4 separate regions of the Homo sapiens genome follow, and regions 2, 3 and 4 are each linked to region 1. Evidence: fine-mapped expression QTL. A gene starts in region 1. Each other region holds a variant in brackets. All regions are shown on one strand. Distances are between the middles of the regions.

Region 1 (7,784 bases):
GGTAGCCTATCAAAATTAATCTCTCTCCACCACTCAAAAATTTCTTCAGCAAAAAGTTAGTACACTCTAGAAACAAGCAATTAAGCTTTATAAATGTTCATCTTTTGTTCCCATGTAAGTCTGGATGCAAGATTTATTTCTTCATCACACTAGTGGGTTCCCAAAAGAAAACAGCAATTTAAATAAAAATCATGAGTGATTACCATGCAGTTAGGCAAGGCATCTGTAAAATAATACAACCGCTGGACTAGGATTAAAGGAGAACTGGGTTCTTTTCTTGGCTTTGTGGCATATGTAATTTTACACAAGGCAAAAATCACAACCTCTCTGGGTCTCATTTTTCTCATCTCTAAAGTGGGGGTTGGGCTAAAAATCCTCCAAGGCCCCTTTCAGCTTGTGATAAGACTTCAAGTCGCCTTTTCACCCTGAAGGAGTCCATTTCAGTCTGCACCAACAGTTTATTTTCTGAGTCACAGCTTATTTCTCCATGCTTATCCTAAAAATGTTGTGCCCAAATAGTTCTAAGCTCTCGAGATTTATTCCCACTCAGAAAGAAATGGTCTTTCAAGACCCACTAACAAAATGTTTCAAAAGGATTTAAAAAGGTAAAATTAGTTTACTTAAGTATAAAGGCAAAAAAAAAAAAAAGCTCTAGCCTGCATTCAGAGATTGATACAATTTTAGGAAAAAAAGGCATCCTAAAGCTACTCTACACGGTAGATGGTTTAAATATATTAAAACAAAGAGCTCACGCATAGAAAAAATCTGCTAACATACAACCATCACTCTCCTGTTTTGAAGACACGGGAAAAAAAAAAAAAACCTGTGTTGTTCAGACAGGATTTACTTTCCCCAAAGAAGCAAATTTGTAAGGAAGAAAACCTCTGTAATTAAAAAGGAATCCGGGAGGAACCAACCTTTTTAAGGGCCTTTTCACTGTCCAAATTCAAGTGCATTTTCTTGTACAATGTACTTCTGTGATTAACTCACCGCTACACGTTTAAGCAACCCACACCCACACTTAACACTCAGTCGCACTCTTCCGACCGGTCGGGGTGGCAGCGTGGACGAGTCACAAGATAGCGGCGGGAGTGGAAATTTCCTCTCCCCTGGAGTGGGGCAGGGTCTGGCTTCTCCGAACCGCTCAGCGGGCCGGGCGCCTCCGCCAGGGCCTCTCGGGCCGGAGCGCTCCGTACAAAGGAGGCCCGGGGGCTCGGCTCCTGCACTCTCGGGGCCCGGCTTCGGGCAGGGGTCCCCGGCTTCCGGCGCCGCGCCGGGCGGGAGGCCCGGGCAGCACGTGCGCCCCGCTCCCAGCAGGGAGGGAGGAACCAGCGCGGCCCGGCCGGGCTGCCCGCGGGCCCCGCTGCTTCGGGAGCGAGCTGCGGCCAGTCCGGCCGGCCCGGGGAGCAATGAATGGGGCCGCACTGCGCCGCCGCCGCCCGGGTTAGGGTCGGGCGGTCGGGAGCCCCGGCGCTGGGAGCCGCCTCCCGCCTTTCCGTTCCCACCAGACCGCGCCCGGCGCCCCCGGGACCGAGGCCGGCCCCGGACGCCCAGCTGCTGCCCGCTCACCCCAGCTCTTGGCGGTGCGCCCCAGGAATTCTCCGGTGGTCGGGTTGTAGATGAAGAGCTTCCACTCGGCCAGGCTCTGGTTGAGGGACTTCTTCTCGTTCTTCGTCATGGTGTGCGCGCGGACGGCGAGAGGAGCTGCGGCCGCGGGGATGGAGGCGGCGAGGGCTGCGGAGGCGCGTCCCGGCTCCGGCGGCGCAGCCCGGAGACGGCAGTGAAGGGTGGGACGGCCGAGAACACCTCCTCGTTACGGGGAGTACTCGAGCCGACTGCGCCGCGCCGCGCCGGGCGGCCGCTTGGGCCGCGGGAGCCTGACGTCTCCGCCCGCCGCAGCCAATCCCCGCGCCGCTCGGCCCGCGCCGCTGCCGCCTCCCGCCAGCGGCCGGGGCGCTGCCTGAGGCGGCGAGGGCGCCCCACCCCGCCCCGGCCCCGCCCCGCAGTAGCCTCGGGGGCTCCCTCAGCCTGGGTCAGAGGAAGCGAGAAGAAAGTCTAAAAATCCGAAGGTTTAGTCGCACGCACGTTTATAATAATAGCAAAAGGCGGGCGTCCCCGCGCCGCAGGTTGCTTAGGAGGAGGACTGGGTTTCCTGGGCGTTCCTGGGCGCCGGGGCGCTGAGAAGATGCTACCCGCGGCGGGCGGGTGCGGAGAGCACGAAAACGACTCCAGTCGGCCCGCGGCTTCCTCTCTGAGGGAACTTAATCGTCCCCTCCCCGAACTGCCTCCCCGACCGTCCCCAGGCGTTCTCTGGGCTCTGTGACGTTCCTACAGGACGCTCTCTGGGCTCTGTGACGTTCCTACAGGACGCTCTCTGGGCTCTGTGACGTTCCTACAGGACGCTCTCTGGGCTCTGTGACGTTCCTACAGGACGCTCTGCGGGGGATCGCGCGGGGCTCCCACAATGTACACGGTGCACTGCTGTTCTGAGAACGTCCTCGCTTGGCTCCCTTGAAGGGTTCAACCGGGAGCCTCGGGTCAATGGGAATTCCGTTCTAAATATGCCAGTGAATGGAGTATAATTTTTCTCGGGATTCAGTTGAATTTATCAATGAAATCTAAATACGTGCTTTCCCAAGGGTCCTGGCAACTGAAAGCTCCCAGCTTTTGCCCAGACGCTCCTACTCTTAACCCACAGGAAAGGAACACTCGTTGGAGGGTCCACGCCTGTGTAGTGTCGCCGGCTTTTCATCTCCCCTGTAGAGATCGCGGCCCTTGGGCGGAGCTGAGGGTGCCGGTAGCGTTTTCCTCCGCGAGATGGAGCTGACGAGTACGGGAGGGGGGGTGCCCTCAGACTCAGCGACAGGATAAAAGACTTTATAGGAATTTGCACAGAAGGTGCGGGGTGGGGGAGGTTGTTGTTGTTGTTGTTTATTTATTTATTTTTAGAAAAAAGCTCTGCCTCCGTTTTATTAGCAAATAAAAATTATGGAGAAATGTAATAGCCATCTTATTGTTTGGAGTGATGAATTATAATCTGTCTGGAAGTTTAAACAGCCTGCAAATGGATGAATTTTCCTTTTTCCTCACTTTTCTTACCAAAGCAAGAAATAATGAATTATACCTCCCACAAATGGAAAAGTGGTAAAATATATTCCTATAAAGTGCTTTTTTCACGCTTAAAAAAGCTAAATTTATAATTATGACATTGAAAATAACCAAAATCCATTTACGTTTTGAGCTAATGACACCAAAAGATTTGTAGAAGCATGTTGGAGAGTTTGGCATGAAATGAGTATTAGAAATAGCAAAGCACCATGCAAGCAGACTGGAATGCACTTCTTTAAATCATAGGCAAGATTGAAAGAACTAAAGAATGTTACCTGCCGGGCGCGGTGGCTCACGCCTATAATCCCAGCACTTTGGGAGGCCGAGGCAGGCGGATCAGGAGGTCAGGATCGAGACCATCCTGGCTAACGCGGTGAAACCCCGTCTCTACTAAAAATACAAAAAAATTAGCCGGGCGTGGTAGCGGGCGCCTGTAGTCCCGGCTGCTCGGGAGGCTGAGGCAGGAGAATGGGGTGAACCCAGGAAGCGGAGCTTGCAGTGAGCCGAGATCCCGCCACTGTACTCCAGCCTGGGCGACAGAGCAAGACTCCGTCTCAAAAAAAAAAAAAAAAAAAAAAAAAAAAAAAAAAAAGAATGGAAGTAGTTAACTATTTTCAACTCATTACAAATATAACTACAGGTTAGAGGAAACCTAAAATACTGGTAGAGTTGATAACAGGCTTTTTCATTTAGGTAAGAAAGAAAGATATTTAGAATGAAACAAAACCTGTCCGCTTCATTTACATTGTGTGTGTGCATGTATGTGTGTGTGCGCTAATAATAAGCGTGCTTTGATAACTAATCACCTGGCACACAAAGAAAACGTGGTAAACAAGAATATTATGAAATAGTGTTTCAAAGATATTGGCTGCTGTCAAGGATTTGTAGTTTGTGTATGTGTGTGTGTATATATATATATATATATATATATATTTTTTTTTTTTTTTTTTTTTTTTTTTTTTTTTGAGATGGAGTCTTGCTCTTGTCGCCCAGGTTGGAGTACAGTGGCTCGGATCTTGGCTCACTGCAACCTCTGCCTCCCGGGTTCAAGCAATTCTCCTGCTTCACCCTTCCAAGTAGCTGGGATTACAGACGCACGCCACCACGCCCAGCTAATTTTTTTATTTTTCAGTAGAGATGGGGTTTCACCATGTTGGCCAGGCTGGTCTCGAACTCCTGACCTCAGGTGATCCGCCCGCCTCAGCCTTCCAAAGTGATGGGATTACAGGCATGAGCCACCACGCCCAGCCTGTTAGTTTGTATATGTTTAATGGTCATTAATATGACTTTCATATTTAGTGCTTTGTGGTTTTCCAAATAAGGATTTAAATACAAATATATAATTCAGTAAGCAGTTTTGAAACACATGACTAGTTCAGTATAGTAACTAGGTCCAACAGATTTCAGTTTGGTGAAATTTTTACATTCTACTCCAAAACATGGAAGCTATTTGTTTCTCTGATATATGGTAACTTGAGCATTACCTGGAAGAGAAAATCCTGTGTGTACTGGGAACCACTGGTCTACCAAGTATGAGCAGATAACATTTAATTACAGTTACATTCTCTGTCAGTTTATTTTACTCTAAGTTTCTCCTTTGAAGGAGAAGTTACTTCGCTAGAGAAAATACAGAATGCCTACCTAAATTTAAGTCCAGATGGATGATGGATTTTTTTTGGTATACATTCCATGCAATATCTGGGACATAGCTACTCCCCCAAAATTATTCTTGTCTGTCTGAAATTCAAATTTAACTAGAAATCTTGTTTTTGTTTTTGTTTTTTTGGAGACGGAATTTGATCTTGTCGTCCAGGCTAGAGTGCAATGGCGCAATCTCGGCTCACTGCAACCCCTGCCTCCTGGGTTCAAGCGATTCTCCTGCCTCAGCCTCCCAAGTAGCTGGGATTACAAGCATGTGCCACCTCACCTGGCTAATTTTTGTGTTATTAGTAGAGACAAGGTTTCACCATGTTGTCCAGGCTGGTCTCGAACTCCTGACCTTAGGTGATCCACCCGCCTCGGCCTCCCAAAGTGCTGGGATTACAGACATGAGCCACTGCACCCAGCCTATCTTGTATTTTTATTTGCTAAATCTGACAGCCCTACCTGTAGAGGATACTTAGGAATTCCACAGTAATAATAATGATCTCTTATAAATAATTAAGTAAGTCCCAGGCCCTGTACTACTTGCGTAGTGTGATTTATTTCTCAGTCTTTACAAATACCCTAATGGGGAGGTACTGTTTCCCTAATTTTGTAAATGAGGGAATTACATTTACAAAATCGTAATTAAGTTTGTAATTAATTCTCTAATTACAGTTACTGAAATTAGAGAAATTAACTCATCCATGGTTAAGAAGCTAGCTAATGACAGCACCTGGATTCAAATACCCACCTCTCCTCCACCACCCAATACCATTAATACCTCTACAGTAGGCCGGGCGAGGTGGCTCAAGCCTGTAATTACAGCACTTTGGGAGGCCGAGGAGGGCGGATCACGAGGTCAGGAGTTCAAGACCAGCCTGGCCAACATGATGAAACCCCGTCTCCACTAAAAATACAAAAATTAGCTGGGCACAGTGGCGGGCGCCTGTAATCCCAGCTACTCGGGAGTTTGAGGCAGGAGAATTGCCTGAACCACGAGGTGGAGGTTGCAGTGAGCCTAGATCATGCCACTGCACTCCAGCCTGGGTGATAGAGCAAGACTCTGTCTCAAAAAAAAGGCAGAATGTTGAGTTACTGAAGCTGGGTGTGTGAAAAAAAAGAAGAAACTTTTTTTTTGAGACAGGGTCTTGCCCTGTTTCCCAGGCTGGAGTGCAGTGGTGCAATCATAGCTCACTGTAGCCTCCACCTCCTGTACTCAAGTGATCCTCCTCCCTCAGCCTCCTGAGTAGCTAGGACTACAGGCATGCCACCACACCTGACTTATTATTATTAATATTATTATCATTATTTGAGATGGAGTCTCGCCTTGTTGTCCAGGCTGGAGAGCAGTGGTGCAATCTCGGCTCCCCACAACCTCCACCTCCCAGGTTCAATTGGTCAATTGATTCTCCTGCTGCAGCCTCCTGAGTAGCTGGGACTACAAGTGCGTGCCACCATGCCCAGCTAATTTTTGTATTTTTAGTAGAGACAGGGTTTCACTCTATTGGCCAGGCTGGTCTCGAACTCCTTCGAACTCCTGACCTCATGGTCCACCCACCTTGGCCTCCCAAAGTGCTAGGATTACAGGCGTGAGCCACCGGGCCCGGCTACATCTGGCTAATTTTTATTTTATTTTTGTAGAGATGGGAATCTCACTATGTTGCCCAGGCTGGTCTTGAACTTCTGGCTTCACTTCAAGCGATAGTTTTGAGTTGACCTCCCTAAATATGGAATTACAGATGTGAGCCACTGTGCCTGGCCAAAAAGAAGTTTTTTATGTGAGGAAGACTAGCCCCTTTAAATTATCAGGCCCAGAGAGGCATTGAAATTAAACACATGGAATGAAACTCTTCCTTGAACTAAATCATTATCTCTTGAAGCCACTTCATTTCTGTAAACCAATGCATTCCTGATGAACAACTTTTGCAATTGTCCCTTTCTCCTGATTCATCCTTTTTTCTTTAAAAACTTGAGCCTCTCCTTTGTTCCCTGAAGCACTCGCCAAGACAACCTGGAAATGTGTCCTGGGCTGCACTTCTCAACCTTGGCCTAAATAAACTCTCTACATTAATTTTGCCTAAGCTTCTTCCTTTTAGGTCAACAGGTGATGGGTACATGAGGTTCATTATACTATATTTGCTTTGTATATGCTTGGAATTTTTCATAATATAATGCTTTTAAAAATTGGAGAAGATGTGAAAAAGAAATTGGGGACAAAGGATGGCCAATTTTCCTGATACACATTTTTGTGGTTCTTTTATTTGAAAAACAACCAAAAGAAGGTATAAATTTGGCTGGGCGTAGTGGTGCATGCCTGTAATCCCAGCTACTTGAGAGACTGAAGCACAAGAATCACTTGAACCCAGGAGGCAGAGGTTGCAGTGAGCTGAGAGTGAGACTCGGTCTCAAAAATAAAAAGAAGGTATAAATTTAACACTTTTAAAAGGAGATATTTTAAAAAGCTGACCTCATAGGAAACAGATAATTCTGGGGACATAAGAGAATTTTTCTTGTATTCTAAATAGTGACCACAGCAAAATCTAAGCTACTTTATCCATAAGATAAGTTGATTATATACATGTAATCAACATATAGATGTGTATGTATAGATCTATATACACACTCATATATATACACATACATATATATATTAGGCACAATCAGTGACATGAAGAAAATTATTGGAAATTAAAAATATAATTGCTAAAATTAAAAAATCAATATAAGGACTGAATGGAGCAGTCAATGGAATCCCCCAAAGCGTAAAGCAGAAAGACAAAAGGAAATGAAAATATTTTTAGAAGTACAAACACATATAGGGCTAATCCAGGAAGGATGCTATTCAACTAATAGTTCCTGGATTGACACTTTATGTGTTTTCAGAAGAAAGACAAGAAAATTCAGGGGAGAATATAATGAGAGAAATAATAGAAGAAAATTGCCTAGAGGTAAGAACAGGAGTCTTCAGCCTGAAAATGTATGCTGGTGCCAGGCATAAGAAATAAAAATAGGCTCATACTTAACCATAACCT
Region 2 (4,000 bases), 30 kb before region 1:
GACAGAGCGAGACTTCGTCTCAAAAAAAAAAAAAAGCATTAGATCTAGATTAATTCAACCTTGCACATAGGCTTTAAAACAATCCTAAAATTTTCTCTAGCCTTCAAACATTCCCATATTTAATATATCACACATGTACATATAATACATATTATATGTATATAATATACAACACATAAATACATATTATATATGTATTACATGTACATGTGATATATTAAATAAGGAAATGTTTAATATGTCCCATATGTAATATATATGTATTATATGTACATGTGTATGCATGTATATTTATTTAAACTAATGATACTTTAAGTACTAAAATAATCGACAAATAATTTTAAGAAACTCAGTTTAAAAACTGTGTACTTAAAAATATTTAACACATATGCTTATATATTTCATGCAATTATAAACAGAGTTCAGTGTTTTTGAATAGATCAGACTATGTTCAATGGTAAGTCACATCACTTAAATAGCAAGTAAAGAATAATCTTAGAATTAGTCTGAGGTAGAAAAAAACAGTGCTACAATGAGAGATGAAGGAAAAGTAGCATGGAACTAATCTCTGACACTTGCTCCAATACACTAAGAGTTTTAAAAGAGTTATTCAAGACATTTAGACTAAGATTAGCTGTAAACAAAAGAAATCATTAGAAAAAAATTGTTCTAGGAAAAAAAATGGTTGAGACAATTAGTTCAGTTTGGCTGGTGATATAGCTCAGAAGTCTATACAGTGAGCAAGGATCTAGATAAGGGCACTTCCATCTCAGCATTATTGGCATTTTGGGCTGAATAATTCTTTGTTGTGGGGGTTGCCCTATGCACTGTAGGATGTTTAGCAACATCCCTGGCCTCTATTCACAGTACCACCTCTCTAGCTGTAACAACCAAAAATATTTCCAGACGCTGCCATATGACTCAGTGGTTGAAAACCACTGCTCTAGAGAGAAACCTGCTAGACTCCCACCTTCCTGGCCCGATTCCCCACTCTCCTGCCCTCTAAATCCCACTCCTCTAGGACTGAACTTTCTTCTTTAGGTAGAACCTTCCCTTCTCTGTCATCTATAGCAGTTAGTTTACAGTCTTTGGAATTATACACACTGAAGTTCTGCACATTACTGTTTCTTACTTTTCTAATTATCAGCATCTGAGGACAAGGGTCATGTCCAGTCACCAAGGGAGAGCTGGCATTCAAAGACTGTTTAGGCCAGGTGTGGTGGCTCACCCCTGTAATCCCAGCACTTTGGGAGGCCGAGGCGGGTGGATCGCCTGAGGTCAGGAGTTCGAGACCAGCCTGGCCAACGTGGTGAAACCCCGTCTCTACTAAAAATACAAAAAATTAGCTGGGCGTGGTGACACATGCTTGTAATCCCAGCTCCTTGGGAGGCTGAGGCAGGAGAATCGCTTGAACCCGGGAGGCAGAGGTTGCAGTGAGCCGAGATCACACCATTGCACTCCAGCCTAGGCAACAGGAGCAAAGCCCTGTCTCAAAAAAAAAAAAAAAAAAAAAAAGACTGTTTAAAAAGAATAAAATCAGGAGGTAGAAAATGTGGTTTAGATGTTTCAGTTTTTTACTGCATACATTCTCCTGTATAATGAAT[T/A]TTTTTTCCAGAAGAAAATCAAGAAGAATTAAACATATGAAGAGTATATTCATTTTGTTCTCTATGAGGTATCATTATTTAACAACTTACCAATTTCATAACTAACCATTTAGAACGACAAAGTATGTATTTTATAAGTCCAAAGCTCTAACTGAAGCTAGTGCCAAAATATATACCTTAATTACTCAAGGCAAAGTAAAACTGCTCTACGATACTCATAAGTCACTCATAACTATAACTATATTCTTCAAACGTGGCTTTTACTAGAATTCTCAATATTCATTTGCTTACTTCTGACAAAAAAAAAAAGAAACCGAAACAAACAAAACAAACCCACTCAAACTCTCAAGATTTATCAGTATATAAATGTGAAGGTCTTTAAATCAGTATGTAAATATTAAACAACAACAACAAAAATTAAAACCTTCACATTACTCAGCTCCAAGGTTTAGCTATCTTCTATCTGCTATATAAAACAGATTTATGGTGAAGATAAACTATAACTCAATTTTGTTAAAAGCCGTAACCACTGCCAGGCACAGTGGCTCACGCCTGTAATCCCAGCACTTTGGGAGGCCAAGGCGGGGCAGATCACCTGAGGTCGGGAGTTCGAGACCAGCCTGACCAACATGGAAAAACCCTGTCTCTACTAAAAATACAAAATTAGCCGGGCGTGGTGGCGCATGCCTGTAATCCCAGCTACTTAGCAGGCTGAGGAGGCAGGAGAATCGCTTGAACCTGGGAGGCAGAGGTTGCAGTGACCCAAGATCATGCCACTGCATTCCAGCCTGGGCAACAAGAGTGAAACTCTGTCTCAAAAAAAAAACAAAAAACAAAAAACAAAGTCATAACTGCAAGATAATTACCTGGGCTAGGAATCTGGTCACGGTATTTTGGAACCTCATCGTTGAGAGTCTGAAGCATAACCCACATCGTGAATGAGAAGAGTGCAGCCAGGAACCCATAAAAAACTAGGTAGAAGAGCAAGATCAAACCTGTAAAAGAAAATAAAACTTATGAAATGTGCACGTGCGTGTGTGTGTGTATGCATGTTTGGCCAGGTTAAAAAACAAACCAACTGTTCTTGCAAGGGTACGATCCCAAGCTTTGCCATGCACATAGCCAAATATCCTCATATTCAGGACACATAAATTTGCCCAAGCAAGGGGTATTTCAGCAGACAGCACCCACCCATCCCATGACCCCTCCTTTTCCCTGGTATTTCCAAGTTAAAGCAGCTTCCACCATTCATACTCTGGTTCAAAATCAAAGCTTTAAAATTCCAGTACATAGGGGAATGTTTCCCAAAATGAACTTGATGCCCTCTAAAAAGATACAAGATGGTTTTAGGTAAACAAAACCCCCAATATTTACATGATCCTTTAAGTGGCGAATATAAAAGAATTAGTACATGAAACGCATATTTCACAGACAGTAATTATTTGCTTAAATTTAAGTTTTAAAAAGTGAGTTAATGGCTCCCACCTGTAATGCCAGCACTTTGAGAGGCTGAGATGGGAGGATCGCCTGAGCCCAGGAGTTGGGACTAGCCCAGGAAACACTTTGTCTTTACAAAAAAATTAGGTGCTCACTTTGGCAGCACATATACTAACAGTGGAACGATACAGAGAAGATTAGCATGGCCCTTGTGCAAGGATGACATGCAAATTTGTGAGTCGTTCCATATTTAAAAAATTAAAAAAATATATATTTTAAAAACTGAGTTCATTGAAAGAATATCAGGAAATGTGCAGATAAGGCCAACTTATGAAGACAGCACTCAATGAATAAAGTTTAGGACACACTGGTCAAATGGCAGGGCTCGTGCAAAAGTGAAAAAAGGACAAGGTCAGAAACAAGCCCTCTGATCAATGGAATTTCATAGCTCTACTGCTAAGCACAAAGCAAGATTTGGGAGACACACGTTTCAACATTAAGGGCTTAATCTCTTTCCTTTCACAATTTGGGAACACTAAGATAGATCTATCCTGAACCAGTGATTTACTTTGGGAACACTTAAAATCAATTATTTTTCTCAAATGTCTATATTCAAAGTTCTAACATCAGAAGTGGCTGCCAACAAGTATATTAGAATACATTGGTAAAGTCACTTGTATTTCAAGGTTTAAAAACTGATCAAAGATTCATTTCTGTAATAATATATTTCTGAATATATTTTCCCCCCAGGGAGTGGCTCCACAACTTTCTTCTGATTCTCAAAAGATCCCATGACCCCAAAACAGATTGTGCTGAAAGCTAGATAACTTTTATTTCTCAACTGCAAGGCAGGAATCACCCCCAACCCCCTTTTTCAAGTAAAGGGGAAATAGTTAAAGCAATTTCATTTTATAATTTAGACTAGCATTCTACCCCTCCCCCCCAATTACCAGGTGGCC
Region 3 (7,962 bases), 69 kb before region 1:
GCAGATTGATTGATGAGTGCTGTGGAGAAAGCAGCAGCGTAGCGGGACCGTTTGGGAAAGGCTACTTTGGCTGGGGGTGGCTGGGAAAGGCCCCTCTGGGAAAGAGACAGTTTTACTGAGTCAGATGGTGGAAAGACAGATGTCTCTATACTTTCTTAACAAGCCACTCTGTCCCATAACATGCACTTGGAATCTCTCCTAAGTTCCAGAGGCCCCACTGTTCCAGTTTCAAGCCTTCATTTTGGAGTCTGTTTGGGAACTTTTAAGACTTCAAAGCAAAGTTAGCTACCAGCAATTTCTGTAAACCAAGAGAAGATTGTCACAAAGATTCACTACTTTCCAACTGAATCTATGCAGTAGAAAAATCATTAGAAAATACAAAAATTAGCCGGGCGTGGTGGCACATGCCTGTAGTCCCAGCTACTCGGGAGGCTGAGGCAGGAGAATCACTTGAACCCAGGAGGCGGAGGTTGCAGTGAGCCAAGATCCCGCCACTGCACTCCAGCCCAGGTGACAGAGCAGGACTCTGTCTCAAAAAAAGAAAAAAGAAAGAAAGAAAAATGATTAGAAATTGAGAACTATTTTACGTGTTTCTAAGTTGTTGGCTACATCAAAGAGATCATCTGTATTCTGCATATGGGCTGGCTTTGGTGAAGCTGATGACTGGACTTCTAAGAACCGTTTTCCCAAATGGGTTCCCATATTCATGCACCCAAAGCAATGGTCCCCAAGCACTGATGAAAACTAATATGCATTTCCCAAAGACCCACACTATGTATCAGGAGCCTGCACCATGCCATTTGAATGACCCTCAGCAATGTGCCTCCCTGCCCTCAAATTCCCAGTTGATAACAGTGTTTGATTAAATTTCCACTCAAGCCAAACATGGTTACTAAGAAGAGAAAAACCTGATGTTTGCATAATATTTTTTTTCCCCTCGAGATGGAGTCTTGCTCTGTTGCCCAGGCTGGAGTGCAGTGGCATGATCTCAGCCACTGCAACCTCTGCCTCCCGGGTTCAAGCGATTCTTCTGCCTCAGCCTCCCAAGTAGTTGGGATTACAGACATGTGCCACCACGCCTGGCTAATTTTTGTATTTTTAGTAGAGACAGGGTTTCACCATGTTGACCACACTGGTCTTGAACTTCTAACCATGTGATCTGCCTGCCTCGGCCTCCCAAAGTGCTGGGATTACAGGCTTGAGCCACCACGCCCAGCCTAAGATTTTATGATTAAAAAAAATTCAAGCTCAATACCCACATAAATTATAACGTTTCTCAGGAAGTAGTCCCTTAACCAAAACGTCTCTGAGAAGTGATGCTTAGGTAATCTCTGGGATCCGATTTTCCCACATGTCTCACTCCACAGTATGCTAAAGAAGAAAAAGTGAGTGGGCACAACACTTTGACCCTCTGGCTAAGCCCTGGGAGTCCCTGACAGGTCCAGAAACTTCTCTGACACCCATTCACCAGGGTGCTGAGATAGGAGAAAGTGCTCATTTATAATGTGTATTCTGTGCAGCTGTTCTCAGACAAGACCGGATCTTGTCATCTTACCTTTTGCTTTACAAAAAAGGCCTGTTGAAGTCAATGCTGTCTTGCCCCTTGCTGTTTCAGCAGGTTAGACTTTGGTCTTCACTGCTTATAGCTGCATTGGAGGCCAACGTAGCTGATGCTCAGGGTCAGGCCTCGCCCCTTCGCCGCAGGTCTCAGGATCGGGGATAACATCGCTCCCACCCTGCTCATTTAGAGATGGGAAACAAGCAAGAGCTTGACTTGCCTCCCATCCCTCAGCCTGTCTGTGGCAGAGCCTGCACCAAAACCCAGAGCTTCTTCCCTCCGTGAGGGCCACGCTGTCACCACAGTCCTCCCAGATGGGTTTTGGATTAGCATCAGTCCTGTGTCACCAAGTGCCAAACAGCTGAGGGGTAGAAGTGGGACTCCTTTCCCGAGCCCCAGCATGAGGCTGTGGTGTCAGGTTTAGGCCTCTCTCAAGTCAGAAAACCCCGGGCTGAGACCTCCACAGACAAGGGCTCCCCATGCTGGCCATTGGCAGGGGCCCAAGAAGTTCAGTGACCAACTGGTCCTTCCACACCACACCAGCTGGTGCTGCCCATGTCTGTCGAATCATAACGGAAAATTCCCCAGATCACGTTTGGATTTAAAAACTCATCCCTTGTCGTGCTTCAATGCATGCCATTTGTCACTTACCATACTTCACCATGGCCGAGCTTCATGTCACATGGCCTGGCGATTGTGCTTGTTCACACTGGGGCCAGGATTTTCATACTAAAACGTCACTGACAATGGGGCTACTTTTCTCCTGAATAGCTCCTCTGGGCTTGTTGCAGTTCTAGTTTTCCCAGTAGTTCCATGGCAGGTTCAACCTCTCAGTGTCCTGAAAAATGGAACCACCCACTAACCATATGCACTGGCTGCCCAGGTGGCTGCACTCCGGGGATCACGTTTCAGTACTGAGTTCCTTCACGCACTTGGTTCACCACCATCACTCTTGAGTTTTGGACAAAAGAGGTGGGTATGCCAGGCACAGTGGCTCACGCCTGTGATCCCAGCACTTTGGGAGGCCGAGGCGGGCGGATCACCTGAGGTCGGGAGTTCGAAACCAGCCTGACCAACATGGAGAAACCCTGTCTCTACTAAAAATATAAAATTAGCCGGGTGTGGTGGCGCATGCCTGTAATCCCAGCTACTCGGGAGGCTGAGGCAGGAGAATCTCTTGAACCCAGGAGGCAAAAGTTGCAATGAGCTGAGATCGTGCCATTTGCACTCCAGCCTGGGCAACAAGAGCGAAATTCCATCTCAAAAAAAAAAGGTGGGTAAAGGGCCATGAGCCCAAACCACTAGGTTGTTCACCTTTTCATCTGAAAATGCTTTACTCTGACTATGTGCTATTGGGTTTTATTTCCAGAAAATATAGTTCTCCTTTTTTCTGCATGAAGGATACATCGTGGTGCCACATGCTTTAAGCAATTTAAACAAGAGAGATAAGAGGAAAATGCAACCACCACATCTGACTTGCCCAATGTAGACTTTCCTTTATTAGATTGAAGTACACAACCTAATATGATATATTATTTTGTAGTATCTCAGACTTTGTAAATAAATGCCATTATTTTTATATGGAAATTTTATAGAAGAGCTATTTCTGTATACGTAATTACTCCTGATTTTCTGAAATTGCTTCTGGTAGATAACAGACAAGTCCTAAGCAGTGTTCCACTAAGGGTGGTTCCAGGCCTGCCTGCCGTGGAGTTGACTGGGGGAATTTTACAGTTTTGCGATCCTAGGATGCGTCCCAGACGCTCAGTCAGAAGTGCTGGAGGTGGGGCCTGGGAAGCTGTATTTGTAATGAACTCTGGTGTTTTTTGTCCATTAAAGTGTATCTTTGTCCATCCTATAAGATTAAAGGAAAGAAAAAGCATCTCAAATGAGTGTAAGTTGTTCTTGAGAAAAAAATGTATCAGACTTTTATGATTTGAATGAAATGTATTATAGAAAAAAATAAACACTTTAAAATAATGTTAGTCTCATTACTAGTGGGTCAGGATATTTTTAGTTAAAAAAGGAGGTGTTAGGCCATGCGCAGTGGCTCACGCCTATAACCCCAGCACTTTGGGAGGCCAAGGTGGTCGTATCATTTGAGGTCAGGAGTTCAAGACTAGCCTGGCCAACATGGTGAGATCCCGTCACCACTAAAACTACAAAAATGAGCTGGGTGTGGTGGCATGCGCCTGTAATCCCAGCAACTTGGCGCAGGAGAATCGCTTGAACCTGGGAGGCGGAAGTTGCAGTGAGCTGAGATCACACCACTGCAGTCCAGCCTGGGCAACAGAGTGAGACTCCATCTCAAAAAAAAAAAAAAA[AG/G]CCTTTTTTTTGTTTTTGTTTGTGAGATGGAGTCTCTGTTGCCCAGGCTAGAGTGCAGTGGTGCAATCTTGGCTCACTGCAACCCCCACCTCCCAGATTCAAGGGATTCTCCTGCCTCAGCCTCTGGAGTACCTGGGATTACAGGCACGTGCCACCACACCCGGCTTATTTTTGTATTTTTTTTTTTTTTTTTTGAGACGGAGTCTCGCTCTGTCACCCAGGCTGGAGTGCAGTGGCGCAGTCTCGGCTCACTGCAAGCTCCGCCTCCCGGGTTCACGCCATTCTCCTGCCTCAGCCTCTCCGAGTAGCTGGGACTACAGGCGCCCGCCACCACGCCCGGCTAATTTTTTTTTATTTTTAGTAGAGACGGGGTTTCACCGTGGTCTCGATCTCCTGACCTCGTGATCCACCCGCCTCGGCCTCCCAAAGTGCTGGGATTACAAGCGTGCAGCACCGCGCCCGGCCTATTTTTGTATTTTTAATAGAGATGGTGTTTCACCATGTTGACCAGGATGGTCTCCAACTCCTAGCATCAAGTGATCCTCCCACCTCAGCCTCCCAAACTGCTGGGATTAAAATAAAAAAGAACAATAGGCCGGGTGCAATGGCTCATACCTATAATCCCAGCACTTTGGGAGGCTGAGGTGGTCGGATCACTTGAGGCCCGGAGTTCGAGCCCAGCTTGGCCAACATGGTGAAACCCAGTCTCTACTAAAAATACAAAAAATTAGCCAGGTGTGGTGGCGGTCGCCTGTAATCCCAGCTACTCGGGAGGCTGAGGCAGGAGAATTGCTTGAACTCAGGAGGCAGAGGCTACAGTGAGCCAAGATCGCGCCATCGCACTCCAGCCTGGGCAACAAGAGCGAAACTCCATCTCAAAAAAAAAGAAAAATGAACAATAAAATAATGGTGGGCTGTTCGGGTGAGGGTAGTGGGTACTCTGGGGCTCTGCCAGAGAGTAAGGACTGAGACCCTCTTTCAACATCTGAGTTCCTCTTCATGAATTGCCCTCAGAAGGGTGGCCAGGGCCGGGCGCGGTGGCTCACACCTGTAATCCCAACACTGGGAGGCCGAGGTGGGCGGATCACAAGGTCAGGAGATCGAGACCATCCTGGCTAACATGGTGAAACCCTGTTTCCACTAAAAATACAAAAAATAGGCCAGGCGCAGTGGCTCACGCCTGTAATCCCAGCACTTTGGGAGGCCGAGGCGGGCGGATCACGAGGTCAGGAGATCAAGACCATCCTGGCTAACACGGTGAAACCCCGTCTCTACTAAAAATACAAAAAAATTAGCCAGGTGTGGTGACGGGCGCCTGTAGTCCCAGCTACTTGGGAGGCTGAGGCAGGAGAATGGTGTGAACCTGGGAGGTGGAGATTGCCCCACTGCACTCCAGCCTGGGTGACAGAGCGAGACTCCGTCTCAAAAAAAAAAAAAAAAAATTAGCCGGGCATGGTGGCGGGCTCCTGTGGTCCCAGCTACTCGGGAGGCTGAGGCAGGAGAATGGCATGAACCCAGGAGGCGGAGCTTGCAGCTAGCCGAGATAGTGCCACTGCACTCCAGCCTGGGTGACAGAGCAAGACTCTGTCTGAAAAAAAAAAAAAAGAAGAAGGGTGGCCAGGTGCCGTGGCTTACCCCTGTAATCTTAGCACTTTGGGAGGCTAGGCCCAGAATTGCTTCCCTGCAATTCGTAGGGAAGATGCTTTCTTATCATCTCTTACACCAAACCAGCATCAGCGAGAACAGCGACAGCAGTCAATATAGAATGCCATGTCCCCAGGCCTCAGGTGGAATGTCACCTGACCTCCGGAACATAGCAGCCCCTCAGCACCTGATCACGCAGTCTCTACCTGTCTCAGGGAGAGGCCGGAACCCTAGATAGCTTATCTCCTATGTTCCAACAAGTTGAGCACGTGGACAATCAGAAGGCACAGAAGGGTGTGGAGCAGTTCAGGGGCCAGCAAGTAGACCCAGGTCTTGAAAAGGAGATGGCTAAGTAAGCACTCGATGACATATTGGAAGGAATGCATCTTCCCATAAAGACTCCCCCTGGAGTTTCACAGACCAAATAAGGGTGGCGGTGGTGGGGAAGTGGTGAGCCTGTGCTCAAGCCCCTTACCCCAGGGGTCTCCTGGAGTAGTGAGCCAAGCTGGTATTGTGCCTTCTCCGTTCCTCCCGGCCTAGAGGAGCCACTTACTAGTGCCGTTTGGTGAAGGTGTCCAAGGACTCATGGGAGTAACCACTGTATCTCTTGGGCTTAAGAAGGTGCTTTTGTTCTTGTAGCCACATGGGGGATGGCACAGCGACTGAATACACCGCTGACCAGGGGCGATACCTGCAAGCCCACAGAATTGTCTACGAAGAGACAAACTATTTTCAAAAATATTTAAAGAGATTTATTCCGAGCCAAATATGAGTGACCATGGCCCCTGACACAGCCCTCAGGAGGTCCAAGAACATGTGTGCAAGGTGGTCAGGGTGCAGCTTGGTTTTATACATTTTAGGGAGACATGAGACTTCAATCAAGTATGTTTAAAAAATACGTTGGTTCGGTCCAGAAAGGTGGGACAACTCGAAGGTGGGGGGCGCTTCCGGCTTATAGGTAGATTTACAAATTTTCTTGTTGACAATTGGTTGAGTTTATCTAAAAACCTGGAATCAATAGAAAGGAAATGTCTGGGTTAAGATAAGGGATTATGGAGAGAAAAGGTCGCAGGCTTCAGAGAATAGATGGTAAATGATTCTTATCAGTAAGGTCTGTGTTGATGTTAATGCCAGCGGGTATAATGAGGCACTTCCCGTTCCTGGCCGGAACCGGTCTCTGAGGTTACATTTTAAGAGCGCCCTGGCCAAGGAGAAAGTCCATTCAGATGGTTGGGGGGTGGGACTTAGAACTGTATTTTTGGTTGACGGAGTTAATTCCATGCCCAGCTTCTTGAGCCTCAGAGAGAAGACAGCTTCAACCCAGAGCCTTTTCCAGAAGAAAGAACCCGACTGGCAGTCAGCTTGCTTGCTTCTGTTCCTACTCCCAGAGCTATGGCTATGTTTTCTCCATTCCTTTTTTTTTGAGACAGAGTCTTGCTCTATTGCCCAGGCAGGAGGTGCAATGGCACCATCTTGGCTCACTGCAACCTCCACCTCCTGAGTTCAAGTGATTCTCTTGCCTCAGCCTCTCGAGTAGCTCGGACTACAGTCACATACCACCACGCCTGGATAATATTTTGTATTTTTAGTAGAGACGGGTTTTCACCATGTTGGTCAGGCTGGTCTCAAACTCCTGACCTTAAGTAATCCACCCACCTCAGCCTCTCAAAGTGCTGGGATTACAGGCGTGAGCTACCGCGTGCGGCCTCCATTCCTTCTCCTACGGGAGCTGCTTCTGTATTTCTGTGCATCTTCTCAGAGTGCTGGCACTTCTCACTGAAGCTTGCACCTGACGACACCGCCAGCTTCCCCAGTTTCTTGCCAGATGAAGGCTCCATCTGCCGGTCTTACTGTGGACGGCTGCCAAATGCCCGGGGGCTCCCTGATCACTGCCAGCTCAGCCTTCTCTCTGAGAGGCCTTTCCAGCCTCTTGCTGAAACTTGCTTTCAGGAGAGCATCTCAGTGGAAAATGCACAGTGGTGAAGGAAGTCCTGTAGTTGGGGAGGGTGTGGGTGGTGGGGGCACAACCAATCCGGTTAGTGTAGAGCAGCATTTGTCATATCCACTTTCTCACTTTCATCCAAATTGCTTCAGGACATTTTTGCCACTGGGGCACAGTGATTCATCCAACCATTTCCTTATTGCCTTCTTATCTCCCGCCTTGGCTAAGGGGCCTAAAGTACTGTGACACATTATGCTAAGGTCAGGAGATTTGTTTTCTTCTTTCATGCCCTACCTACCACTTGGTCATGGCTCTCAAAAGCCGAAACTCAATCATGAGAAGTTTGTGCACTAAAATCCAAAAATGACAATACCGAAAAGGTCCCATCTCCACAGGAAGGACTTTCTGGTTCTGCTAATACATCATAGATTTGCTTTCAAACCTCCAGCAAAGGTTTTCCTCAGTCTGAGTACAACAAAAAGTAATTTTACAG
Region 4 (7,962 bases), 19 kb after region 1:
TTCGTTATACAGCATCTGTAGCTGCAAAGTGATAGTCTGCTCTTGGTAAACTCTCCATCTTTCACATTATGTGGGGTTTATCTCCTCCTTGAACTCTTGGTAGAACCTTGCCTTATGGACCATGTGGACTTGTTTTCTTTTTTGAAGGTAGATCTTTGACTATTTCTTATATTACTATTGATAAGTTCAGGCTTTCTGTTCCTTGAGTCAATTTTGGTAATTTATATTTCTTTAGAAAGCCATTCTCCATGGTCTGGATTTTCAAATTCATTGGAATAAAGCTGCACATAGCACTTAAAAAATTTGAAATCTCTGCATTCTGTTTTCCTCTCTGATGTTATAGTGTCTTTTTTCTTTCTTTCTTTCTTTCTTTGTTTTTTTTCCTAGTTCATACTTGCCAAAGGCTTTCTATGTTTTGAGCTTGTTAAAACATCAAATTATTGTGTTGGGTTTTCTATTTCATATTATCTGTTTTATCTTTATTAATTCCTTCCTTCTACCTTCTCTGGTTTATTTGTTATTTTCTAGTTTCTAGAGTTGAAAGCTAAGTTCACTCATTTTCAATCTTTCTTGCTTTTTAACATCTGGATTTAACATTATAATTTTCTTCCTGATAAACAATTTTGTTATTTCTCAGTGTTTGAGATGCTTTGTCCTCCTTGTCACTGACTTCTAAATAATCCTACTGCCCAACCCTGTGGGAAAATTACCCCCACTGATACAAGACTTTACCATGTGACTTACTTTAGCCAATAAAACGTAAGTGGAAGTGCAGCCCACAATCTGAATCACAGTGTGATTCCATCATCTTTCTTTTCTTTCTACCAGAAGACCAGCAGTGTCCCACACAGGGCTGTTTCTTCAGCCTGCACACCAGACTGCAGATAACAAGGAGAGTGACAGCTGACCTGGGATGGTGATGGAGCGAGGGAGAAATAAATCTCTTGTAATCTCCTGATACAGTCTTAAATTCTCCAGTATGCATTTCTAAAGAGTTAAATGTCTTCCTATATAGCCAAAATAACATTTTCACATCTAACAAAATTAACATTTATTTCTTTTTTTATTTTTTTTGAGACGGAGTCTTGCTCTGTTGCTCAGGCTGGAGTGCAGTGGCACGATCTCAGCTCACTGCAACCTCTGCCTCCAGGGTTCAAGCGATTCTCTTGTCTCAGCCTCTCAAGTAGCTGGGACTACAGGCTTGTGCCACCATGCCCGGCTAATTTTTTGTATTTTTAGTAGAGATGGGGTTTCACCGTGTTAGCCAGGATGGTCTCAATCTCCTGACCTTGTGATTCCTCCATCTTGGCCTCCCAAAGTGCTGGGATTACAGGCGCGAGCCACCATGCCCGGCCCAATTTCTTAATATTATCTAATACTTAATACATACTCAAATTTCTTCATTTGGCTTCCAAATGTCCTTTATAGCTGGTTTGTACAGATCATGAACTAACCCAGAACCTCATATTCTATTTAATTATTATTATTATTATTTAACTGTCTTATTACACTGATTTTTTTAAGAGACCAGGCCTCCATCATATAGTTATGTTTTTCATCTCCTATGACCAGAAAGTGACCCAAGTGGTATAACTTTGGTACAGCATCAGTAACCAGTTTCCCATTCTTAGAGCTTTAAGGTCAACTGATAATCCTTGCCTGAATTGATAATTTCCTTAGGTACTACAAATGATTCTTTCAGTGTAAAGTAACGGTATAAATGTAAATGTAACCTATAAATGTATAAATGTAGAGTTTTCCCCTGTCATCTGGGATTATTTTGGTTTCTGCAGTAGAGTTGCTACTGCAAAGGCAGGATAAATGCCTACTTCTCCCTCGTTATCCACTTTCAAAGTAAACAGTTGTTTCAAATGGTGACACACAAGCTTTCTCTTACTGTTATAGACTTTGGATTTTTGGAGATTTGATGTGTTTCAATCAACTACAATCATTTTTCTTTTTTGATGTTCAAAGTCTTTCTTACGATATCCCTAATGATTTTTTTTTTCTTTTTTAGCTGGAGTGCAGTTGCGCGATCTCGGCTCACTGCAACCTCCAACTCCCTGGTTCAAGCAATTCTCTCGCCTCAGCCTCCCGAATAGCTGGGATTACAGGCACGTGCCACCATGCCCAGCTAATTTTTGTATTTTTAGTAGAAGGGTTTTACCAGATTGGCCAGGATGGTCTCAACTTCCTGACCTCGTGATCTGCCCACCTCGGCCTCCCAAAGTGCTGGGATTACAGGTGTGAGCCACCGTGTCCGTTCCCCAATGAAATTATTAATCCTAGTAGAATTCTTCACATGGGGAAACAAAAGCACAGGAACCAAAGTCACTGGACTCAGTAAGTCCCTAGAAATGATTAAAAGGGGAGAAAACATAAGACAGATAGGCAGGATGACAGCCACAGTCTGCCTGAGAGCGGCACAGTACATCACTGTGTACAACAGAAATCTGATTTGTCCCTTCTTGTAGCAATCCAAAGAACAGGGGGCCACAGGCAATGTTAGCTCTTAGAAAGAATCACCCCAAAATCATCATTGTTCACTTAAACAGCCAAACTGCTTCACCAGCTCATGCCCCTTCAAGCCAACACACTGTGTAGGTCAGATAAAGAACTAGTTGCACACCTTCAGTGATTAACAATCTATTTGGTGCCAGGCTGTGGTGGCACACACCTGTAGTTCCAGCTACTCAGGAGGCTGAGGCAGGAGAATCACTTCAGCTCAGAGGAGTTTGAGACCAGTCTGGGCAACACAATGAGACATTGTCTCTAAAAAATAAAAATAACCCATTTGGGAATAGTCATTGAGTTAACAAATATTTACTGTTAAGATGATGGGACAATAGGGCTAGGAATGATGGCTTATGCCTGTAATCCCAGCACCAAAGAGGCCAAGGCGGGTGGATCTTTTGAGCTCAGAAATTCGAGACCAGGCCGGACACGGTGGCTTATGCCTGTAATCCCAGCACTTTGGGAGGCTGAGGCAGGCTGATCACTTGAGGTCAGGAGTTTGAGACCAGCCTGGCCAACATGGTGAAACCCCATCTCTACTAAAAATACAAAAATTAGCCGAGCGTGGTGGCACGTGCCTGTAGTCCCAGCTACCCCAAAGGCTGAGGCAGGAGAATCGCTTGAACCCTGGAGGCAGAGGTTACAGTGAGCCGAGATTGCACTGTTGTGCCCTGGCCTGGGCAACAGAATGAGATTCCGTCTCAAAAAAAAAAAAAAAGGGTTGGGCGCAGTGGCTCATGCCTGTAATCTCAGCACTTTGGGAGGCCGAGGCAGGTGGATAACCTGAAGTCGGGGGTTCGAGACCAGCCTGACCAACATGGAGAAACCCCGTCTCTACTAAAAATACAAAAATTAGCTGGGCATGGTGGCACATGCCTGTAATCCCAGCTACTCGGGAAGCTGAGGCAGGAGAAGTGCTTGAACCCGGGAGGTGGAGGTTGTGGTGAGCTGAAATCAGGCCATTGCACTCCACCCTGAGCAACAAGAGTGAAACTCCATCTCAAAAAAAAAAAAAAGAGAGAGAAAAGAAAAGAAATTCGAGACCAGCCTGGCCAACATGGTGAAACCCCATCTCTACAAAAAATACAAAAATTAGCCGGGTGTGGTGGCATGTGCCTGTGGTCCCAGCTACTTGGTAGCCTGAGGTGGGAGCATCACTTGCGTCCAGGAGATGGAGGTTGCAGTGGGCCAAGATTGGGCCACTGC[A/T]CTCCAGCCTGGGTGACAGAGTGAGATCTTGTCTAAAAAAAAAGAAAAAAAAAAAAGATAATTTGACAATAAATATTAACTATCAAGCGATCAGCACTACTGAGACTCTAAAGAGGAAGGAAGCCCTTCTAGCTGTAGAGGTCTTGGGAGTTACATTGAAAGAGATGGGGTTGGAGTAAGGCCTTGAGGACTGGGTGGTAATTTATTATATGAAGATGGGGTTGGGAGGGTGGTACCCAGCCCATGGGATAGGGAGCACTAGCAGGAGAGGACAGAGTTTTATATAGGATTATAGGAATATAAACTTCGGTGTTTTATGGCCAGGTTATATATGCCTTTGAATTCCTGGCTAAACATTTAGATGGGATGTTGTAAGTAATAGAGAACTACTGTAGGTGTTTTCAGTATAAGGCGGAGGGAATGATGGCTAGGCTCTTGAATTTAAGTTGTAAGGATCAGGCTCAGAAATCCACTCCCCTCTTCTAAGTTATTGATAACTAATACAGAAGAATCATTGAGAAAATCTAAAGTGAAAAAAAACCACCTACAGGGCAGTTTGCTTGCATTTGCGTTAGATGTGCACGTCTAAAATTTTACACACAGAATATATCTGGAAGAACACAGGAGCCACTGGTGGCTATGGCTGCCTCCCAGTGGAGAAACTAGGTGCCATTTACTCCAAATCACTGGTTACAGTGATTCTGTGACAAAATTAGCTAGATGAGGAAGCAGTATTTAATTTCATTTTGGTTTGGTTTAGTTTTTAATTACAAGAGAGGATGGGTGTTGTACAAGAGCATAGGATGTGACATCAGAGGGTCCTTATGACCCAGCCTCTGCTGCCTTTCTATGACTATGTGTGACTATGTGACCTTAGGAGAGACACCATCCTCTAAGACTCAACTCCCTCATCTGTAAAACAAGGACAAGAAAACATCCTTTACAGGGGTTTGATGAGAACCTACGTGAAGATGATATAAAGCACCATGTGGACCAGGCACAGTGGCTCACGCCTGTAATCCCAACACTTTGGGAGGCTGAGGCGGGCAGATCATTTGAGGTCAAGAGATCGAGACCAGCCTGGCCAGCATGGTGAAACCACATCTCTACTAAAAATACAAAAATTAGCCGGGTGTAGTGGTGGGTGCCTATAATCCTAGCTACTGAGGCAGGAGAATTGCTTGAACCTGGGAGGTGGAGGTTGCAGTGAGCCGAGATCATGCCATTGCACTCCAGCCTGGGCAACAAGAGTGAAACTCCGTAAAAAAAAAAAAAAAAAAAAAAAAAAAAGGCAGCATGTAAGTGAAACTTTGAAAACAATTTTTTATTTTTATTTTCATAGAGACAGCGTCTCACTATGTTGCCCAGGCTGGTCTCAAACTCCTGGGCTCAAGTGATCCTCCTCCTCAGTCTCCCAAAGTGCTGGGATTATAGATGCAAGCCACTGTGCCCTGCAGAAACTTTTAAAAAATGATTACATCAAAAATGTTTCATGTTCTGAAAATGCCTTGAGCGCTGTAGATTCAGTTCCAATTTTTAAATACGGACATGCAGCGCCGGTGAGGTTAACAGGCAGACCTGGCAGGTGCAGCCACTGCTCAGCAGAGTTCCTCGGCAGGCCAGGCGTGGATGGAAACTCCAAATTTCCATCACAAGGCATCAGATTTCCCCTCTCTAAGACCAAGTAACTAAGCAATTTTTACAAATTATGCACAGGATGAAGCTTTCTGAGAGGCTGGGGTGTGCTGGTTTTATCCAGCCATGGCGAACAGAAGAATCACCTGCCTCCTTCCCCAGCCCGACCCTTTGCCCAGCATCAGGCCCCTGGCACAGTCATATTTCAGAGGAAGGTCTGGTGAGCTCTTGAGTTTCTGGTGTGAGGTTTGAGAGGGATTTGTGGAGTGTCACTTCTGGAAAGCAAACCGTAATACAGAGCACTAACTTAATTGTTATTCCTAGGGTTTTCTGCGTAGACATCTTACCACAGACAGCGTTAACAGAAGCAGTTGATTCTCAGGGCACTGTTCTGGAAATGGTGTAAAAGAATGGATCATTCCTCATTTTGCCATTCATAGACAAGTCTCTATTAGGCAATAGAAAAAGTCTGTGCAATTGTATCAACTGTAATCTGGAAAGTAGCCACACCCTCCTTCCAGAACTTCCCTCTTCACACACAAAGCTTTTTCCTTTTGAAAATGAAATTTGTATTCTATTTATAGGAAGAAATGTGTGTTTCTTTCTCAAACTATTATCTAAGATTACATCAGTTTCACATTACATCCAAGCTGACCACTTTCTTCTGAGTGGCAACATAAATTTACATGGACCCAGTGAATTTTGCCAGTGCATCATGTCCTAGAATAAGGGCAAAGCTAATAAATTGCTTCATTTATCCAAGAGCAACGCCAGATTGAAGGCACACACAAAGGAAAATTAATACGCGAAGGAAGAAGACAGAAACAAAGGAGAAGCCAGGCACAGTGACTCACGCCTGTAATCCAAGCACTTTGGGAGGCTGAGGTGGGTCGATGATTTGAGGTCAGGAGTTCAAGACCAGCGTGGCCAACATGGTGAAACCCCGTCTCTACTAAAAATACAAAAAATTAGGGCCGGGTGCGGTGGCACATGCCTGTAATCCTAGCACTTTGGGAGGCCAAGGCGGGCGGGTCACAAGGTCAGGAGATGGAGAATACCCTGGCCAACACCGTGAAATCCCGTCTCTACTAAAAATACAAAAAAAAATTAGCCGGGCGTGGTGGCGGGCACCTGTAGTCCCAGCTACTTGGGAGGCTGAGGCAGGAGAATGGCATGAACCCGGGAGGCAGAGCTTGCAGTGAGCCGAGATAGTGCCACTGCACTCCAGCCTGGGCAACAGAGCAAGACTCCATCTAAACAAACAAACAAAAAAATTAGGCGGGCGTGGTGGTACGTGCCTGTAATCTCAGCTACTTGGGGAGCTGAGGCAGGAGAATTGCTTGAACCTGGAAGGTGGAGGTTGCAGTGAGCTGAGATTGCACCACTGCACTCCAGCCTGGATGACAGAGTGAGACTCTGTCTCAAAACAAAAAACAACAACAACAAACAACAACAACAACAACAAAAAACAAAGGAGAAACCAGCGTGCTTTTAGTACAATGTCAGGAAATTATTTAACATAGCCATTTCGACATGCTAAATATTTTGCAGGTAGAGACGGTCCCTGACAATGGTTCACCTTTAAGATGGCATGAAAGTGATATACGTTCAGTAGAAAGCAGTATGATACTCTTTTGACAAGCTGGGCCAGTCCCTGTCAGCCACACCATAAACTGTGTTGCTCAGCTGCAGGTAATGTAAGAATGTTGATTGCGTTTAAGGTAGGCTAGGCTAAGTTACAATGTTCTGCATGTTAGGTGTATTAAGTGCATTTTCGACTTATGATATTTTCACCTTACCATGAGTTTATTGGAACGTAACCCCATCATAAGTTGAGGAGCATCTGTATTTCAGTATTTAATACAACAACCTTATGAGATAAGTGTTATTCTTATCCCTATTTTAAACCAAGGAAACCTCAAACAGAATGGTTAAATAACTTGGTTAAGGTCATGCACTAAAACCTATTCTCCATAAGGACACTTCTTCCCCAGACACCCTTTCAAATGGGGCCTTTCTTCTCTCCCCTACTCATCTTGGACCACTGGCCTGGAGGTGAAGGAGGTATACTCATTTCTCCCAACTGCTGCTTCAAGACCACCATTCCTCTCTTCTTCAAAGCTTTCAGCTTTGAAGCTGTCATCTGAATATTTACTAAATATTCAGCTTTGTTGAATCAACTGTAGACTCGGGTCACTGCTCTGAATTCCTTGAAGAGTTCCATTCCCTGTCACTTCAGATTCTTGGTGACTTCACAAACAGTCTTTCCAAATGCCCCGCCTGCCAGTGCCTTGACCACCTCACCTCCAACAATGTTGTCATTCTACCCTGGACCTGTGCCGGAGGCCAGCTCATTGCTCACCAAATCTGTTTCCTCTCCTTTCCGGGCAGGCTACATATGCACTTCTCCTTTGTAACAATGGCTTCATGACTGAGTTCTGGACAAAGGGATTTGCAGTCCTCTGCTTGCTCTCTCATTATTTGCTAGCCAGATGGAGAGGATGCAATGGAGTGTTATAAGGCCCTGGAACAGCGCAGTCCAGTAGAAATGGAAGCCAAGTCACATATGTGATTTTAAATTTTCAAGTAGCTATATTTAAAAATGCA

What was found. PIP is the estimated chance that this variant, and not a neighbour inherited with it, causes the effect. A credible set is the group of variants that fine-mapping cannot tell apart.
Region 2: its variant is the best candidate, but not a certain one, in a credible set for the expression of ATP1B3 in blood mononuclear cells (TOPMed, PIP 0.64).
Region 3: its variant is the best candidate, but not a certain one, in a credible set for the expression of ATP1B3 in whole blood (INTERVAL, PIP 0.85).
Region 4: its variant is the best candidate, but not a certain one, in a credible set for the expression of ATP1B3 in whole blood (TOPMed, PIP 0.57).

What each region holds. Positions count from the first base shown.
Region 1 is chr3:141,870,696-141,878,479 of GRCh38, reverse strand. ATP1B3 (ATPase Na+/K+ transporting subunit beta 3) reads right to left here and starts at 1,837. Exons shown (of 7, transcript NM_001679.4): 1 at 1,570-1,837. The coding sequence starts at 1,678. RefSeq lists silencers at 1,043-1,612, 1,883-2,012, 2,883-2,942.
Region 2 is chr3:141,902,219-141,906,218 of GRCh38, reverse strand. It overlaps ATP1B3 (ATPase Na+/K+ transporting subunit beta 3), which reads right to left. Exons shown (of 7, transcript NM_001679.4): 2 at 2,471-2,599. It also overlaps the pseudogene RNU6-509P. Among named protein-coding and RNA genes, the nearest start is that of ATP1B3, 28 kb to the right of the region's middle. RefSeq lists enhancers at 794-1,294, 1,295-1,795. The variant T/A (reference allele first, on the strand shown) is at 1,605.
Region 3 is chr3:141,940,004-141,947,965 of GRCh38, reverse strand. It overlaps TFDP2 (transcription factor Dp-2), which reads left to right. Exons shown (of 13, transcript NM_001178139.2): 13 at 1-3,538. Among named protein-coding and RNA genes, the nearest start is that of ATP1B3, 67 kb to the right of the region's middle. The variant AG/G (reference allele first, on the strand shown) is at 3,883.
Region 4 is chr3:141,851,363-141,859,324 of GRCh38, reverse strand. It overlaps LOC105374134 (a long non-coding RNA gene), which reads right to left and starts at 7,776. Exons shown (of 3, transcript XR_924551.3): 1 at 7,660-7,776; 2 at 745-908. The variant A/T (reference allele first, on the strand shown) is at 3,721.